Homo sapiens: one gene and its partner. The protein of the gene in region 1 interacts with the protein of each later gene in a biochemical or structural test. Each region holds a gene or a part of one and is shown on either strand. Other genes may lie near its edges.

The links. Proteins that work in one complex are often made in the same cells at the same time.
Region 2: the proteins of DLG4 (region 1) and PKP4 interact in a test that uses a peptide from one of them, tested with the Homo sapiens proteins (2 studies listed by IntAct, with this or other methods).

What each region holds. Positions count from the first base shown.
Region 1 is NC_000017.11:7,186,663-7,190,286, forward strand, and holds the end of DLG4 (disks large homolog 4), read right to left. Parts: 3' UTR 525-3,624; downstream 1-524. UniProt on the Homo sapiens protein: Postsynaptic scaffolding protein that plays a critical role in synaptogenesis and synaptic plasticity by providing a platform for the postsynaptic clustering of crucial synaptic proteins.
Region 2 is NC_000002.12:158,624,331-158,627,983, forward strand, and holds part of PKP4 (plakophilin-4), read left to right. Parts: intron 1-547; coding exon 548-1,097; intron 1,098-3,653. UniProt on the Homo sapiens protein: Plays a role as a regulator of Rho activity during cytokinesis. May play a role in junctional plaques.

The sequences.
Region 1 (3,624 bases):
AACCTTTCAAATTTATTCCTTCCAGACTGTTCGTCTCCCTACTTGGCACACTCTCACCACCCCAGTCTTTGTTGTCCTTCAGGCCTCCACCCAAATGATGCTGCAAGGGGCCTCCCTGACCGCCCGGTCTAAACCAGCAAGGGCCATCACTCTCTTTCATAGTAGCACCCATCATTGTCTAAACACTCTGTGTTCACTTACTCCCTATAGTCTGTCATCTCCACTGGATGCACCCAAAGTTCCCTAAGGACAGGGATGTTGCCTTCCCAGCATCTAGAACACTGCCTGGTTCCAAGGAACATCCAAGGAAGTATTTACTGAAAGAAGTAAAAAGTGTGGGGAGAAGAGGAACCAGGATTTGAACCTATGTTGTTTGGGAGCCCAGGGCTCCAATGCATTAATTACATTGCCTTCTCAAGCGGCCAGGCCATGGCCTTGGAAGAATACAGCCCCAGCGGCAACCGTGCTTCCCCTGAGGAATAATGCCTGGAGGGAAACAGGAAGGAAACTTTTTAAAAACAGTATGTATTTCTATATTTATTTGAATTGTTGTCAGGTACGTGTACTGATTATAATTTACAAAATAATGCATGCAGGCCAGGCGCGGTGGCTCATGCCTGTAATCCTAGCACTTTGGGAGGCCGAGGGGGGGGGGGGTGGATCACCCGAGGTCAGGAGTTCGAGACCAGCCTGATCAATATGGTGAAATCCCCATCTCTACTAAATACAAAAAATTAGCTGGGCGTGGTGGCATGCACCTGTAATCCCAGCTACTCGGGAGGCTGAGGCAGGAGAATAGCTTGAATCCGGAAGGCAGAGGTTGCAGTGAGCAGAGATCGCACCACTGCACTCCAGCCTGGGCAACAAGAGCGAAACTCTGTCTCCAATAATAATAATAATAATAATAATAATAATACATGCAAAATTATGTGATTCTACCCCATCCAGGTCAAATATGTGATTCTGCCCCTTCTAGTTTAACACGCAGACGCATTACCTGCACACACCTTCCTCAGCTCCTAGATTTCTCCCTTCAGCTCACGATAGAGAACGTTATCACAGCCTCAAGCCATCTGCTATTACACAGAACCAAGCTAAGAGAAGGATTATTTGAAAAACATCAGGGCCAGGTGCAGTGGCTCACGCCTGTAATCCCAGCACTTTGGGAGGCCAAGGCGGGCAGATCACCTGAGGTCAAGAGTTTGAGACCAGCTTGGCTAACATGGTGAAACCCCGTTTCTACTAAAAATATTAAAAAATAGCTGTGTGTTATGGCACGCATCTGTAATCCCAGCTACTTGGGAAGCTGAGGCAGGAGAATCACTTGAACCCTGGAGTTGGAGGTTGCAGTGAGCCGAGATCGCGCCATTGCACTCCAGCTTGGGCAACAAAAGTGAAACTCGACCTCAAAAAAAAAAAAAAAAAAATCCTCTGAAGCAGTGCTTCTCCACCCAGTGAGACATCAAAATCACCCGGGAGCTTTCCAGAAATGCAGACCCCTGGTCCCTATCCCCAGGATCCTGATGGACTCGGTCCTGCATAGAAAATCCTGCAGGGCAATACGTGGCTACTGGTTGAAGTGACACCCCTTCAGCAATCTCTGCCTCTATTCTTGGACTACTTTAGGCTTGGACGGCCATGCCATCCACAGAATCACTACCCCTGGGTTGGTCTTTTGCATGAAACTCTCAACTTTAGTCAGGAGTGGCTACAAAAAATGCCCTTTTGCACTGTTTGGGATTTAACCACCATAACTCTTAGGGCCCTCTGCCTCAGCCTTACCCACTGGAGCACCTGAGAATCAGAGAAAGGAATAGTACCCCAGCAGGTGCCCCCAAAGGTTCATCTGTGCCAAACACATGAAGAAGGCAGAAGGCTGAGAGTCACCATTCTACATAGCAGGATCTCAGGAGCTTCAGTTAGGACTTAGGGCCAGGAAAATATGACTCCCTAAAAGAACTAAAATTATTTCTCCCTTATAATAAAGAAGTAGGTAATTGACAATTTCCTTTTTTGCCATGGCTATCAGGAAGCTCAGAGATCACATTTACCCTCACAGTTCATATACATTTCTCCAGTTTTCATCTTTGGCATTTAGATTCTTATTTTCCTACCCTCATTATTTACAAAGCTGCCTCAGATCTTTCCCATAGAGATAGGACATAAAGGCTGGGCGTAGTGGCTCATGCCTGTAATCTTAACACTGTGGGAGGCCAAGCTGGGCGGATCACCTGAGGTCAGGAGTTCGAGACCAGCCTGGCCAACAAAGCAAAACCCCATCTCTACTAAAAATACAAAAATTAGCCAGGAGTGGTGGCAGGCGCCTGTAATCCCAGCTATTCGAGAGGCTGAGGCAGGAGAACCGTGTGAACCCAGCAGGCAGAGGTTGCAGTGAGCCAAGATCGCACCACAGCACTCCAGCCTGAGCGAAAGAGCGAAACTCTGTCTCAAAAAAAAAAAAAAAAGGGTGGGGGGGGCGCATAAAGAAACCTAGCGTATATTCACACAGCAGTTCTTATCAGCAGAACTCTGTAAAGATCATTTCCAGGCCAGGCGCGGTGGCTCACGCCTGTAATCCCAGCACTTTGGGAGGCTGAGGCGGGTGGATAACAAGGTCAGGAGTTCAAGACCAGCCTGACCAACATGGTGAAACCCCATCTCTACTAAAAATACAAAATTAGCCAGGCATGGTGGCAGTAATCTGTAATCCCAGCTACTCAGGGGGCTGAGGCAGGAGAATCACTTGAACCAGGGTGGCAGAGATCACAGTGAGCCGAGATCGAGCCACTGCACTCCAGCCTGTGCGACAGAGCAAGACTCTGTCTCAAAAAAAAAAACAAAAAAACAAAAAAAATCATTTCCAGATCCTAGCTCTGTCCACAACTCCATGAACATGAATGAACGAAGTTTCCTCTCTATTTTCCTTTAAGGACTGTTGTGCTTCCCAACAGGACTGAGACAGCCCGGCAGGGATCAGAGCTGGACTAAGTCTGCAGGGCCCCAGACAAGTTCCAGCCTCCCCTTTCTGGCCTGTCATGACTTTGGACAGAGCTCCAGACCTTCCCAGGCTCAGTCTTCACCAACTCGGGTTCCTTGATTTGCCAGTTACCTCCCTGGCCCATTTTCCAGGCCACTAACCTCTCTGGCTTGGAGTGAAGAAGGATCTGACTCTGCTGCGCCCATCTCCCTCCACACCCAGGTCCCAAATAACCAGGCCACACACCAAGTTTCAAGTATCTGTCTCTTCCTTTCACTCTCTCAAAAGAAAAAAATAAATAAATTGCAGAAGGCGGCAGCATTTCCAGTCTTCCCTGGCTCCCGGACACCCGACCCCCGACCCCTGCCCCCCACCCTCCCTCCCGCATTTCCCACTCCCTAGACCCATCCCTCCCTTTTCCCCAAAAAAATTCCCAGGAAAAAAAAAAAAAAAAGCCACATTTAGACCTTCCACTCATGCAAACCGGCAAAGAAAAATGGTGGGGGCATGTGGAAGGCAGGGGCCCGCTGCGGAGTCCCCTGCTTCTCCCCCCAAAAAACCACCTTTGAGAAGAAAAAAAGTGGAAAAAATAAATGAGAAATCAAGGAACATGGGGAATTACGATGAGGGCAGGGGTGACCCCAGAC
Region 2 (3,653 bases), on another chromosome or scaffold:
ATGAAAGAACATGTTCCTTTTGTTAATGGGACCAACCCATAAAGAAAAACAATGATAAATATTCCACTAGCTACATTTAGACTGATATATTCAAATTATATTCAAATTTTTGTTTTACATAAATGCATTGCCTTGGCCAAACTTTGCTTCATAGGGAATGAAGTAAGTACATTGTTCTGGTGCCCCTTCACGCTCATGAATTACATGTAACACTTAGAATAAAACATTTTATGTGCTGTGAAAAATGCATAGGCAATAGTTAAAAATGTAAAGATAAAAAAGGAGTATTAAATGTCTTCAGATCTCTTTTTACAGGTTAATTTTAGCATTTGGTTTAAACCACCAAAAAAAAAAAAAAAAACTAAAACAACTAAAGCACCGTGAGGAAAAATTAATGTCTGGCTCAAAGCATAAAAAGGAAAAGAATCTTAGATGCCTAAAATAGTGGATTCACATTCTGTAGTGAGCTATGTGTATTTCTTTTGTAATGGCAATGAACACAAAACCCTGGATAAACCCATTCTCTTTTTTCCCCCCCTTTCATCAGCCATCAGTAGCCAATCGGGCCATGAGAAGAGTTAGTTCAGTTCCATCTAGAGCACAGTCTCCTTCTTATGTTATCAGCACAGGCGTGTCTCCTTCAAGGGGGTCTCTGAGAACTTCTCTGGGTAGTGGATTTGGCTCTCCGTCAGTGACCGACCCCCGACCTCTGAACCCCAGTGCATATTCCTCCACCACATTACCTGCTGCACGGGCAGCCTCTCCGTACTCACAGAGACCCGCCTCCCCAACAGCTATACGGCGGATTGGGTCAGTCACCTCCCGGCAGACCTCCAATCCCAACGGACCAACCCCTCAATACCAAACCACCGCCAGAGTGGGGTCCCCACTGACCCTGACGGATGCACAGACTCGAGTAGCTTCCCCATCCCAAGGCCAGGTGGGGTCGTCGTCCCCCAAACGCTCAGGGATGACCGCCGTACCACAGCATCTGGGACCTTCACTGCAAAGGACTGTTCATGACATGGAGCAATTCGGACAGCAGCAGTATGACATTTATGAGAGGATGGTTCCACCCAGGCCAGACAGCCTGACAGGTGCGTACAAGGTGACAGTGCTACATAAAACCCAGTGAGGAAATCTTCTGTGTAACTTAAGTTGAAACAAAGAATGAAAAGGTGGAAAAGGCTCATTCGTGTTTTTAATCTCAGATTTTAAACTATAAACTTAAGGTTAACTTGTCTTTCAGGTTCTGTAATTCTTAATACATGAAATTATATACATTTATATCAATAGAATCCTTTTGCAATGGATATAACTCTTTTGTAATATTTTCCCACTAAATATTAGGGTTTAAAATGTGCTTTTTTTGCATTTCATAAGTATTAGTTGCAATTCTAAGCAGTTGACTAATTTTTTTTAATGAAATATTTTTTACCAGCCAGGCCTACCCCTAAACATACCCTAAAGTTATGTTAAAAGGTGGTATCAGAATATCTGTTTAAATGTTTAAATTTTTTCTTTAGAAATGCTTTGGTAATATAGACTAGACTATGAATTTTATCCCCTACTTGATTTTGGCATTTTAACGGTAAATGCACAAAGCGCTTATGAATCACTTTTACATGCCACTCCTATTAAAGCAGAAAGACACCGGGTCCCTAATACAGCTGTTCCAACTTCAGGGTTTTTCGTGGAGGGTTTCCTACATGGTGTAAAGATTTGGTTATTTTAAATAAAATGCAATTTAACTTTAGTGTTTTAAATTATATTTTAAAAGTAACATATACAGAATGGTAAAAATTAAAACTATATGGGAAAATATTGAAATAAGTGAAAGCCTTTTACCCTCACCCAGTCCCATCACAGTTGATGTGGCTTTCAGAATGTTTCTTTGCATTTACAAATATATGCAATCCATGCAAATCTGCACACACATTGTGTTTTCTATTGATGGAATTCTATCATATAGATCTTCTATACTTTGTTCTTTTCACTAACTATGTCTTAAGAGCTCTACCTCATTCTTAATAGATGCATGGGACCCATTTTTTATAGATATATCATAATTTATTTGCATTTTCCTCCTAATGGACAGTTAGGTTGTTTGTTATGTTTAGCTGTTAGAGATGATGTAGTACATACATTGTTCTCCCTGCATATTTCACATAAGTACTAGGGTAACTGGGATCCAGTAGAATTGCTGCATCAAAATATATGTGTATTTTTACTTTGAGAGATATTACGTAGAATTGCCTTCTAAGAAGGTTACACACGGATTTATATTTCTGCCAGTAGTTTGAGTGCCTGTTTGTCTATACCTTGTCTACACTGCACTAGTGCTGCATATTCCAAGTTTTTCATCTTTGCCAATCTGATAGGTAAAAAGCTGTACCTCATTGTTTTTAAGGGCTTTTATTGAGTTATGACTGAGGTTGAAGATTTAATCTGTTCATCAACGACTTTATTTCATTTTGTGAAACTACAAGTTCTTTTGTCTATTTTTATAATTCGTGAAAGCTTTTTTTTACTAGAGATAAGCTAGCACCTCGTAATATGCTTCTCAAGTATTTTTTCCATTTTGTCACTTCTTTTTATTTCATTTTGGTTTTAATTTACAAAACTGTTTAACATTCTTACATAGTAAAATTAGTATCTTTTTTATGTCTTCTAAGAAAATTTAAGCCTTTTTGAGATTTTTGTGATTGAATAATTTTGCCTGGAGAATTTATATTGAACTTGATTTTTGAGCTCAAAGAAATTCTTAGTGGAGAAACCACCTCTTTTTCATTCATCTATCCAAGAAGTGTGCTTGACTTAGATATTTTCTGAAATGCCTCTGAAAAGTATGCAGCAAAATGATGTAGGAATCATTTATGAAATTCTACCTCCCAAGGAAATCTTAGAAAATAAATAGTTCTGAGGACTTCCATATTCCCCCGTGTGTATAGAACAGCTATGTAGAAATCTCTGCTTGTAAGAGAGTAGAGAGGAGACTGGAGGAAGGAAGCCAGCATATAAATTATTGTCTCCATATTTAACCCTAAGAGGACTCATTTCCTCTGGTTTAAACAGTCTGTTTCTCTGACAATGCAGGTAAAATTAGACTTTATGTCTTGGGGGGAAAATATATATAATGTCTATTTTTTAGGCCCAGCCTCTCAGTGATTTTTTTCTAGAAATACTGCAGTGTTCTCAAGAAGCAAAGTGTTCTTGATTTCAAAGGACTAATAGCCTGCTAATTGATAAGCAATGTTTTGTACTACATTCAGGGACTTGGGTATTTGATGATCATAATTTAAATGATACAAACTACAGAAATATATATATATATACTCTAAAATGTTCATTTCAGAATAATCATGGCATGTAAAGAAAACTTTTGAGGAGATAAAGAATTGATCTTTGAAAGATAAATTTATGTTTATTTCTAATGCCATAAATATAAATATTTTTAATCACATGGAATCACCGTAATAATAGCTAAACTAATATGTTTGTGGAATTGCAAATAGAAAGTATTGGTTGGATAAATAATGCAGTGGCGTATCAGTGTTTTCCATTATTTGGAAGGGGAAGTAATGTTATTAAAAATTAATCAGTGGAAATGCTTCTGAAAAAATTATTTTTTATTTATTTTTATTTATTTTTAT